Regions from separate parts of the Homo sapiens genome. Here region 1 is linked to region 2. Evidence: fine-mapped expression QTL. A gene starts in region 2. The other region holds a variant in brackets. All regions are shown on one strand. Distances are between the middles of the regions.

Region 1 (5,363 bases), 38 kb before region 2:
TCTGCCTCATTGGCTGTTGTGGGTGTCTCTGAAGCTCATGTTGAATTGCTGTCAAATGCCCAGCGTGTTCTTGGTGGTGACACAGCCACATTGTGTAAATACATTTCTTAAGTCATTTGTGTGTATAGCAGCTGGATTTGGGGACAAGCATTTGGGCACACTCGCTACAAGATTGGTTAGTGATTATGGATGATGAAGTCTGTCGGAAAATTCAGATCTTGATTGTGAGTTATCTTACTTGTCTTTTAAGTTCTCTTTCATCCATTTGGCTCAGGGGACACAGCAGACATCTTCCTGGCCTTAAATAGCTTTCTTTCTGCCAGGTAAGAGAAGTATGATGAGTGCTTTGAAAGAAAAATACTGAGTTCTCTGGGGTGGAGTGTGGTTAACCAGGGTCAGTGGGGGTCACCCCAAACTTATTTAAGGCTTGAGCCGCTGCATCTGGGTGTATTTTTTTTTTTTTTTTTGAGACAGAGTCTTGCTCTTGTTGCCAAGGCTGGAGTACAATGGTGCGATCTCAGCTCACTGCAACCTCTGCCTCCTTGGTTAAAGCGATACTCCTGCCTCAGCCTCCCTAGTAGCTGGGACTACAGGCGCGTGCCACCACGCCGGCTAATTTTTGTACTTTTAGTAGAGATGGGGTTTCACAATGTTGGCCAGGTTGGTCTCGCACTCCTGACCTCAAGTGATCCAGCCGCCTAGGCCTCCTAAAGTGCTGAGATTACAGTTGTGAGCTACCACACCCAGCTGGGCTTATTATTTTTAATCCATTGACAAAATCTTTTCAGTTTCTGTTTCTAACTGGTGAAACTAGATAGTAACATTAATCTATAATCATAGTTTTCCTCTAAATATTAACTAAATATTTTATCCATTTAAAACACTGTTTTCTTCTCTTTTTTTTGAGACAGGGTCTTGCCCTGTTGCCTAGACTGGAATGCAGTGGTGTGATCTCCGCTCACCTCCCAGGCTCAAGGGAACCTCAGTCTCTCGCACAGCTGGGACTAGAGGCACATACCACCATACCCGGCTAGTTTTTGTATTTTTTTGTGGAGGTAGGGTTTTGTCATGTTGCCCAGGCTGGTCTCGAACTCCTGCGCTCGAGTGATCTTCCTGCCTCCTGCTGTAGCCTCCCGAAGTTGCTGGGATTACAAATGTATGCTACTGTGCCTAGCCTTAAAACACTTATCTTGACCGCAGAGGAGGTCTACACAAAAAGAAAGAAAAAAAAAAAGCTGTCTGCTTCAGGCTGGGCACGGTGGTTCACACCTGTCATTCTAGCACTTCGGGAGGCAGAGGTGGGAGGATCACATGAACCCAGGAGTTACAGAGGAGCCTGGGCAACATAGTGAGGCTCTCATTTCTACAAAAAATTTAAAGATTAGCTGAACAAAAATTAGCTGGTGCATGCCTGTGCTCCCAGCTACTGGGGAGCCTGAGGCGGGAGGATCTCTTGAGCCCGGGGATTCAAGGCTGCAGTGAGCCATGATTGCACCACTTCATTCCAGCCTGGGCAACAGAGCAAGACCCTGTGTCAAAAAAAAAAAAGTTTTCATCAAATTTCTGCAATTAAAAAAATTAGAGGCCGGGCGCGGTGGCTCAGGCCTGTAATCCCAGCACTTTGGGAGGCCGAGGCGGGCGGATCACGAGGTCAGCAGATCGAGACCATCCTGGCTAACACAGTGAAACCCCATCTCTACTAAAAATACAAAAAATTAGCCGGGCTTGGTGGCGGGCACCTGTAGTCCCAGCTACTGGGGAGGCTGAGGCTTGAAACCAGGAGGCGGAGGTTGCAGTGAGCCAAGATTGCACCACTGCACTCCAGCCTGGGCGACAGAGCGAGACAACGTCTCAAAAAAAAAAAAAAAAAAGGCAATTAGAATGAGACTTTTGTTTTTATTTTCTGTTCTCTGTGACTCAGTAAACTTCTTAGAGAAAGAACTCTTGGAGAAAAGGGAGAGACCTGTCACTTCCTTTCTGCATGGACTGTGGTATTCCTGCCCCACCCCTGCCGAAATGTTAATGAGCTGTGCAAACTACTGCTGGATTGTTTTGTTCTTCCCCCTAATCAGAGTTTCCACTCAGGACTGGGTAGCCTGTGGACTCCCTGGAGGACAGATAGGTGTGGCAGCCTCAGTGGCCTAGAGTGGACAGCTGGTTTACCGATAGTCCTTTTTTTTGAGACAGAGTCTTGGTCTATCACCCGGGCTGGAGTGCAGTAGTACGATCTTGGCTCACCACATCCCCTACCTCCCAGGCTGAAGTGATTCTCGTGCTTCAGCCTTCCCAGTAGCTGAGACTATAGGCAGACACCAACATACCCACCTAATTTTGTATTTTTAGTAGAGTCGGGGTTTCACCATGTTGGCCAGCCTGGTCTTGAACTCCTGTCCTCCAGTGATCTGTCCACCTCGGCCTCCCAAAATGCTGGGTTTATAGGCACGAGTCACCGCGGGCTTACTGATAGTTCTGTAGGCCAGGGGAATAATCCGTTTGAATAACCATATATGAGGTATTGTGTTTATCTTTCTTTCTTCAAGTTATTCTTGGTGTCAGCTCCTTTTTTTTTTTTTTTTCTGAGACAGAGTCTCGCTCTGTCGTCCAGGCTGGAGTGCAATGGCGCTATCTCAGCTCACTGCAACCTCTGCCCCCCGGGTTCAAGCGATTCTCCTGCCTCAGCCTCCTGAGTAGCTGGGATTACTGATGCACATCACCACGCC[T/C]GGTTAATTTTTTGTATTTTTAGTAGAGATGGAGTTTCACCATGTTGGCCAAATTGGTCTCGAACTCCTGACCTTGCGATCCACCCACCTCAGCCTCCCAAAGTGCTGGGATTACAGGCGTGAGCTACCACGCCCATCCCGTGTCAGGTCTTTTACCTTAATTAATACGTATTGTATTGACAAATTTTCTTTTCTTTCTGAGCCCTCACTTTTTTTTTTTTTTTTGAAACAAGGTCTCACTCTGTTGCCCAAACTGGAATGTAGTGATAATGATCACAGCTCACTGCAGCCTCAACCTCTTGGGCTCAAGCTAACCTCCCACCTCAGCCTCCCAGGTAGCTGGGACTACAAGCACATGCCACTACACCTAATTTTATTTTACTTTTTGTAGAGATGGGGTCTCCCCATGTTGCCCAGACTGGTCTCGAACACCTGGCCTCAAGTCATCCTCCTGCCTCAGCCTCCCAAAGCACTAGGATTATAGGCGTGAACCACCCTGCCCGGCCATGAAGTTAAATTTTTGGTTATTAGCTTGTTGAGTTCTGTTTTCTGTTTTTTTAAATAGCCACATGGCCTGACTCTCTGTGGTCAATGGTATGGATGCTAAAGTAGAGCAAGGACAGTGCCCTGCTCAAGTCTCTCTGACCTGGGTCCATGGGGATTTTCTCTGCCAGTCAGGTTCCTGAAGCTCTGGCTACGGCTCCTGGTATTTTTAATGACCGCAGTAGAGAAAAACATTGGTATCTTCTTGCTGTTGATGAGCAAATCTTTGGACCTGTCTCATGGTGTCTTTATTTGCAAACTGGTTGAATCATGAACTGCCTGGCTTTGGCTGCCTTGCCGTTGTGGCTTTTAATAACTACCCCTATTTCTGGTGGCTCAGTCAAGTTTCCAAAAAGGAAGTCTTACCTGGAGATCCTGTGAAGGAATTCCTGACCAGCTTTTTAATTTTCCAAAGACAGGCCTTATTCGTGTTAAACACACACCCCTTTTCTGTGGCCAGGCCGGTGTGAAAGCATGTGCAGAGGCTGTATAGCAGTAAGAGTTCCCACCCCTTGGGGCATTTTCATTGTCACCACATTGTCTGACTTTGGAGACGACCCCTTTTAAACTCTGGCATTTGCTCAGGTAAGTATTTGGGGAGTATTGTTATAAATGCTGTGCATATCCGTTTTTTCCCCACAGTGGAAAGGAAAATGATTTTTTTTTTTTTTGAGTCGGAGTCTTGCTCTGTCACCCAGGCTGGAGTGCAGTGGTGCCATCTCGGCTCACTGCAACCTCCGCCTCCCAGGTTCACACCATTCTCCTGCCTCAGCCTCCTGAGTAGCTGGGACTACAGGCACCCGCCACCACGCCCGGCTAATTTTTTCTATCTTTAGTAGAGATGGGGTTTCACCGTGTTAGCTAGGATGGTCTCGATCTCCTGACCTTGTGATCCACCCGCCTTGGCCTCCCAAAGTGCTGGGATTACAGGCGTGAGCCACCGCGCCCGGTCGGAAAATGATTTTAATGGATGGTTTTGAGGAAGCTGGTGATTATTTTGTAATGGAGAATTGTAACATGCCAGGGGTTTGGCTCTTCTTTCAGTATTTCTTCAGGCTACCACAAAACTCCACTATTGATATTCTTCCAAAAATAAACAAAACACTAAAAGGACTCCTGCCTTTGGAACAAAATAGCTTCATATTAAGGTAGCTTTGAGGCACAAACCAAGCTGCCTGTGGAGAAGCTGGTTCTTCCTCTAAAACTTACATGAACCTCTGACCCCACTCCCCCTTACTAACGGTTTTCTTTTCTCTTTTGATTTTCTATTTTATACTTTTTATTTTGGACTACTTATAGATTCACAAAATGTTGTAAAAATAGCACAGGGCTGGACCCTGAAGTCTGCTTCCCTGAATGGTAACCTCTTTTTTTTTTTTTTTTTTTTTTTGAGACGGAATTTTGCTTTTGTTGCCCAGGCTGGAGTGGAATGGCACGATCTTGGCCACTGCACCCTCTGCCTCCCAGGTTCAAGTGATTCTCCTGCCTCAGCCTCCCGAGTAGCTGGGATTACAGGCATGCACCACCACGCCCGGCTAATTTTTTTTTGTATTTTTAGTAGAGATGGGGTTTCTCCATGTTGGTCAGGCTGGTCTCAAACTCCCGACCTCAGGTGATCTGCCCGCCTCAGCCTCCCAACGTGCTGGGATTACAGGCATGAGCCATCGCGCTCGACCAATAACTACCATTTCAAATTCCCACGACTATTGTACTGCAGACCTGTTATCGTATATTCTCACCAACACATTTTAAAATGCTTAACTTTTAGGCTGGGCGTGGCCCACACTTTGGGAGGCTGAGGCAGGCAGATCACTTGGGCCCTGGAGTTTGAGACCAGCCTGGGCAACGTGGCGAAACTCTGTCTCTACAAAAAATACAAAAATTTGCCCGGCGCGGTGATGCACACCTGTGGTCCCAGCTACTTTATAGGCTGAGGTGGGAGAATCTCTCGAACCCAGCAGGAGGAGGTTGCAGTGAGCCTAGATCACCACTGCCCTCCAGCCTGGGCCACAGAGTGAGACCCTGTCTCAAGATCAGATAAAATGAAATGCTTAACTTTTGTTAATGTCATTGGTCCTGCTGTGTCTATGAGTGAGACTG
Region 2 (5,363 bases):
TTTTTAAATTATTTATTTATTTATTTTGAGATGGAGTTTCACTCTTGTTGCCTAGGCTGGAGTGCAATGGTGCAATCTCGGGTCACTGCAACCTCCGCCTCCTGGGTTCAAGCGATTCTCTTGCCTCAGCTCCCAAGTAGGTGGGATCAGAGGCATGCGCCACCATGCCCGGCTAATTTTTTTTTTTGTTTTTTTTTTTGCATTTTTAGTAGAGATGGGGTTTCACCGTGTTGGCCAGGCTGGTATCAAACTTCCTGACCTCAAGTGATCCACCTGCCTTGGCCTCCCAAAGTGCTGGGATTACAGGCATGAGCCACCGCACCTGGCCACTAATTTTTTTTTTAATTTCATTTTTATTTTTGTAGATAAATATACACGTAGCCCCTCGCTTATCCCTGTCTGTAAGGGCCTCAGTTTCTTGCTGTGTTGCCTAGGCTGGCTGATCTTGAACTCCTGGCCTCAAGTGATCCTCCTGCCTCAGCCTCCCAAATGTTGGGATTACAGGCATGAGCCATGGCACCTGGCTATGTATTTATTTTTTGAGAGATGGCAGTCTCATTCTGTCACCCAGGCTGGAGTGCAGTGGTGCAATCATAAACTCATTGCAGCCTCAAACTCCTGAGCTCAAGTGATTCTCCCACCCCAGCGTCCTGAGTAGCTGGGACTACAGATGTGTACCACCGCATCTGGTCTATTTCTGCTTTCTTGGAGGCAGAGTACCTCTCCCCATCCTTACCCACTCAGAGGGTGCTAGGGGCTGGGCAGGGTGGGCGGTTGGCCTTGGGCTGGGAGCCCCTAACATAGTGGTCTGAGTCCATTTCCATTGCCGGAGAGGCCACGTTCAGCATGAGCTGGGGCAGGGGGCTTGTGGGGTCTCTTACTCCAGGGTACCATCTCGCTTGGATCCCAGTGAGCCCTCCCATGCCCCACACCCAGGTGGGGTGAGGTGGCCCAGGTCTGGCTGCCCTGTCTGCAGGGGTGGGCACCCATGGTAGCTGTGAGGCAGAATAGGGAATGAGGGTAGCCAAGGGTTGGGCATAAGAAACGGAACAGCAGGTGCAGCCAGTTCTAGGCAGGATTGGGCAGCTCACAAGCCACATCCTGGCTGCTGTGATAACAAGACAGAAATTTCCACTTCACCTCTGATTGGTCTCGGGCCAATCCTTCATAGGGTGTAGCCAATTGGAGGCCTCTAAAGGGCACAAGGGCTGTGGTCAGGTTTCTTTGCTTAATAAAAATCCTAATTACAGAGGCTCTGGAGCTACTTGCTCCAGCCCACTCCCACTCTGTGAATTGCCTTCCGTTAAATCTGTGCTTTCCTTACTCCGTTCTTCTGACTCAGTTTTGTTTCCTTGTGTTTCGTTGTTCTTTTGTTACTTTGTGCGTTTTGTTCAATTCTTTGTTCAACCCACCAAGAACCTGGACAACTCACCTCCAAGACCTTCTATCTGGTAACAGCTGCAGGAGCTGGAGCTGTGGGCCTGGGGACAAGTGTCCTAACAGCCCCCGCTCCCTGCAGCGAAGGGTCAGCAGAGGTGGCGCTCTAGGGGGGCCTGGGCACAAGTTCATAGGATCCTGCCCTGGAAAGGTTGTGGGCAGTTGGGGGGCAAGGGAGACAGTCCCCACCCAAACCCCAATGCCCCCTAGCACCCAAGGTGGTCTTCTCTCAATTGAGGAGCTCTTTGGCAAGGGCGGGTCTAATTTCTGGTGTCCCTGGAACCGGCCAGGGGTGTCTAAGAAAGGGACTCAGGCTGGTGTTCGGACCCCTTCTCCCTTATCCAGACGCAGGCCTTTGGTCCAGCTGTCCCAGCCAGGGCCTGCTCACCCCTGTCCCCTGCCGGGTCCCATCCCCCCCACCCACCCACAGGTCTCAGTTTAGGTGTCAATATCAGAAGCCCCCTCTGTGCTCCGGTCTCTGTACTCCGCCCCCTTGTCAGTGTCCTCTCCCTGAGGACAGGGGGCTCGGTAACTGGGTTTCCAAGAGCCCTGCAGGGACACCCCCTCTTGGGAACTCACACAGCGCAGCCAGGTCGCTAAGCCTTTGAGGGGCCCTTGTTGCCTCCTGGGTGTGCGTGCGACCCGCGCCCACTGTGGTCCCGCCCTACTGATGACCGTGAACCTGTAGGGTGTTGGGCCAGCCCCTCACCCCAAGGCTGGGCAGGCCCCCGGAGTCCCCCTCGGCCCAGACAGAAGCTCCCTCAGGAGCGGGGGAGGGGAAGGGGGCGCGCGGTCCGGCCCCAGGTGTGGCCGCGGATAATGAGACCCTGGGGATGGGGGCGCACCTGCGCCACGGCGCCCCGCAGAGGGTTTCCCAGGAGACCCCCTCGGGCTCCCGCCGCGCCGTGGGGGTGGGGCAGCCCTGCTGGCCAGAGCCGGGCACGGGCCGGGCGGGCGGCGGGGATCGTGACCGCGGCTGCGTGCGTCCGCGTCCGGGCGCTTCTGTGCGGGGTCCTGGCACGCCGGCGGGGGCGACCCGGGTGCCGGCCCGTGCGGGCGACACGCGCGTCTCTGCGGGGCTGCGCGGGGTCCGGAGCGGCTGGGGGCTCTCTGCCGGGCGCGGCTGGGCGCGGGGGGCGCTCCCGGCCGGGATGAGCTCACCGCAGTCGCGCCGGGGCTGAGCGCCGAGCGGGGCGGCGGCGGGGCGGGCGGCGGCTCCTCGGCGGCTCCGCGGCGCCCGGGCCGCGCGCCGCCATGCTGGGCCTGGACGCGTGCGAGCTGGGGGCGCAGCTGCTGGAGCTGCTCCGGCTGGCGCTGTGCGCCCGAGGTGAGCGGGCCGGGCAGGGGCGGGGGGCTCGGCTGGTCTCAGCCCCGGGCGGGGAGTAGCCCCTCCCCCGCGGCAACTTTGGGGGCGCGCATGGGGACCTCGCGGCGCCGACCCCCCGGCTGGGGTCTGGCAGGGGTGGGGGACTTCATCCAGGCTCCAGCCCTGTGGGGAAGGGACCAGGTGCGGACGGGTCGGCTTGGGAAGCGGCGGCGCTGGGACCCTCTCCCCCTGGACACCGCCGCCTGGAGCCCCTCTGTCTTGGGTGGGGCTGGGGCTGGGGCTCAGGCTCTGTAGGGCGTGTGGTGATCCCCGAGAAGACGGGAGCGAAGTGGGCAGGGACTCAGAAACCCCTGCCCAGGGCACCAGGGAGAGGGGCTTCAGGAGGCCACCAGCCCGGGGCGCCATGGGAGGCGGCGCAGAGCCTGAGCCCAGGGATTTGGAGACAGCCGCCCCCGGCACCCGAGCACCATGGGGAGGAACTCCTAGACTGTGGGAAAGTGTTCAGAGACCCCAGTCCAGAGCAGGGTGGTGGAGGGCCCTAGAGGGTCAGTAGGCTTGGGGGGCCGCCGAGGGCCCTAGAGGGTCAGTAGGTTTGGGGGCCGCCGAGGGCCCTAGAGGGTCAGTAGGTTTGGGGGCCGCCGAGGGCCGCTGCTCTCTAGCAGGTAGCCCCTGACCCTGGGCTGCCCTCATCTGAAGTCTTCGCTCCCCCGCCCTTTGGTCTCCGAGTCAGGGAGGGGGCCCTTGTGGACATCTGGGCCAGAGGAGCTGCAGGCCTGGCGGTCTCTGGAGGCCCCTCCTGAAGGTCTGGGTGCGGTGCGGCACCTCCCCAGGCCGCCCTGCTCTCTCTGCTCGCTCTCTCCCTGAGCCCCCAGAGGCTTCCCTTGAGTCCCTTTGGATAGTGGGAGGTACAGCTGGCCAGAGGGGGCTCCAGCCTGGTGCTCGAATGCCAGGGTCCGCTAGTGGCTGCTGCTCACGCCCCTCCCCACCCCCAGTCCTCCTGGCTGACAAGGAGGGTGGGCCGCCGGCAGTGGACGAGGTGTTGGATGAGGCTGTGCCCGAGTACCGGGCGCCGGGGAGGAAGAGCCTCTTGGAGATCCGGCAGCTGGACCCGGACGACAGGAGCCTGGCCAAGTACAAGCGGGTGCTGCTGGGGCCCCTGCCACCGGCCGTGGGTATGGCAGGGGTCTAGGCTTGGAGGGCTGGGTCTGGGGGGCTGGTGAGGAGCCTGGTGGGGGTGGGGGGCATCCTGCAGACTTCCAGTTTCTCCTCAGACCCAAGCCTGCCCAATGTGCAGGTGACCAGGCTGACACTCCTGTCGGAACAGGCTCCGGGGCCCGTCGTCATGGATCTCACAGGTAACTCGCAGGATGCTGCACCCTGAACACAGGTAGGGCCCTCCCAGGCACGCTTCTGCACCCCTGAGTTCCGAGCCCTGGGCCATCACAGTCGCACACCTCATGGGTACCACACCCTACGTGGGGGCTCCTGGAGCAGGTCTCAGCCTGTAGGGGAGTTCCGACCCTAGCTGAGGTTTCCCCAATAGGGGACCTGGCTGTTCTGAAGGACCAGGTGTTTGTCCTGAAGGAAGGTGTTGATTACAGAGTGAAGATCTCCTTCAAGGTGAGAGCCGGGGCAATGGGCGGAGGGGATGGGGGTGGGGGCAACAGCCAGAGGCCTGGCCCCCAGAGGAACCCCTAATGCCTCTGTTCCCAGGTCCACAGGGAGATTGTCAGCGGCCTCAAGTGTCTGCACCACACCTACCGCCGGGGCCTGCGCGGTGAGGGCAGCGGTGGGGGGAACGGGGCGGGGGGGGGAAGCGGGGGCAGACAGAGGACAGCTCTGATGCCCTCGCCCTCCCTAGTGGACAAGACCGTCTACATGGTGGGCAGCTATGGCCCGAGCGCCCAGGAGTATGAGTTTGTGACTCCGGTGGAGGAAGCGCCGAGGGGTGCGCTGGTGCGGGGCCCCTATCTGGTGGTGTCCCTCTTCACCGACGATGACAGGACGCACCACCTGTCCTGGGAGTGGGGTCTCTGCATCTGCCAGGACTGGAAGGACTGAACCCCCAGTCCGTGTCTCCCCTACCTCCCTCAGTTGTTGCACAGGGACCCCCAAGCATCCCCAGCACCCCCCGTGAGTGACCAGACCCTCCCCTGCTGCCCCTGCTGCCCCTGCTGCCCCTGCTCTGTCCCGGGACCCCCTGGCCTGGCGCTGTCCCCTGAGCTGTCCCATTAAACATGGCCCTGTCTCTCTCGGTGCCCTGGGTGTCGTCTCTTTCTGCCTCCCCTCCCCTGGGGGCCGGGGGCGGCCGCATGGGCCTTGTCTTTGCTGGGACTGGGCCTGTGTGCCACGTGGCAGCTGCTGCTTGGCTTCTGGCCCCCTTATCTGCCCCCGCCCCACGCGCCCTGGCAGCACCATGAGCCGCCAGCTTCTGCCTGTACTGCTGCTGCTGCTGCTCAGGGCTTCGTGCCCATGGGGTCAGGAACAGGGAGCGAGGAGCCCCTCGGAGGAGCCTCCAGAGGAGGAAATCCCCAAGGAGGATGGGATCTTGGTGCTGAGCCGCCACACCCTGGGCCTGGCCCTGCGGGAGCACCCTGCC

What was found.
Region 1: its variant is fine-mapped to the expression of ARHGDIG in skeletal muscle (GTEx, PIP 0.98).

The regions. Positions count from the first base shown.
Region 1 is chr16:240,053-245,415 of GRCh38, forward strand. The region is part of intron 1 of FAM234A (family with sequence similarity 234 member A); the gene reads left to right. Among named protein-coding and RNA genes, the nearest start is that of FAM234A, 7.9 kb to the left of the region's middle. The variant T/C (reference allele first, on the strand shown) is at 2,721.
Region 2 is chr16:277,990-283,352 of GRCh38, forward strand. ARHGDIG (Rho GDP dissociation inhibitor gamma) reads left to right here and starts at 2,602. Exons shown (of 6, transcript NM_001176.4): 1 at 2,602-2,764; 2 at 3,757-3,936; 3 at 4,036-4,119; 4 at 4,308-4,384; 5 at 4,478-4,541; 6 at 4,626-5,021. The coding sequence starts at 2,692. The coding sequence ends at 4,825. PDIA2 (protein disulfide isomerase family A member 2) reads left to right here and starts at 5,175. Exons shown (of 11, transcript NM_006849.4): 1 at 5,175-5,363. The coding sequence starts at 5,181. RefSeq lists an enhancer at 2,743-3,500.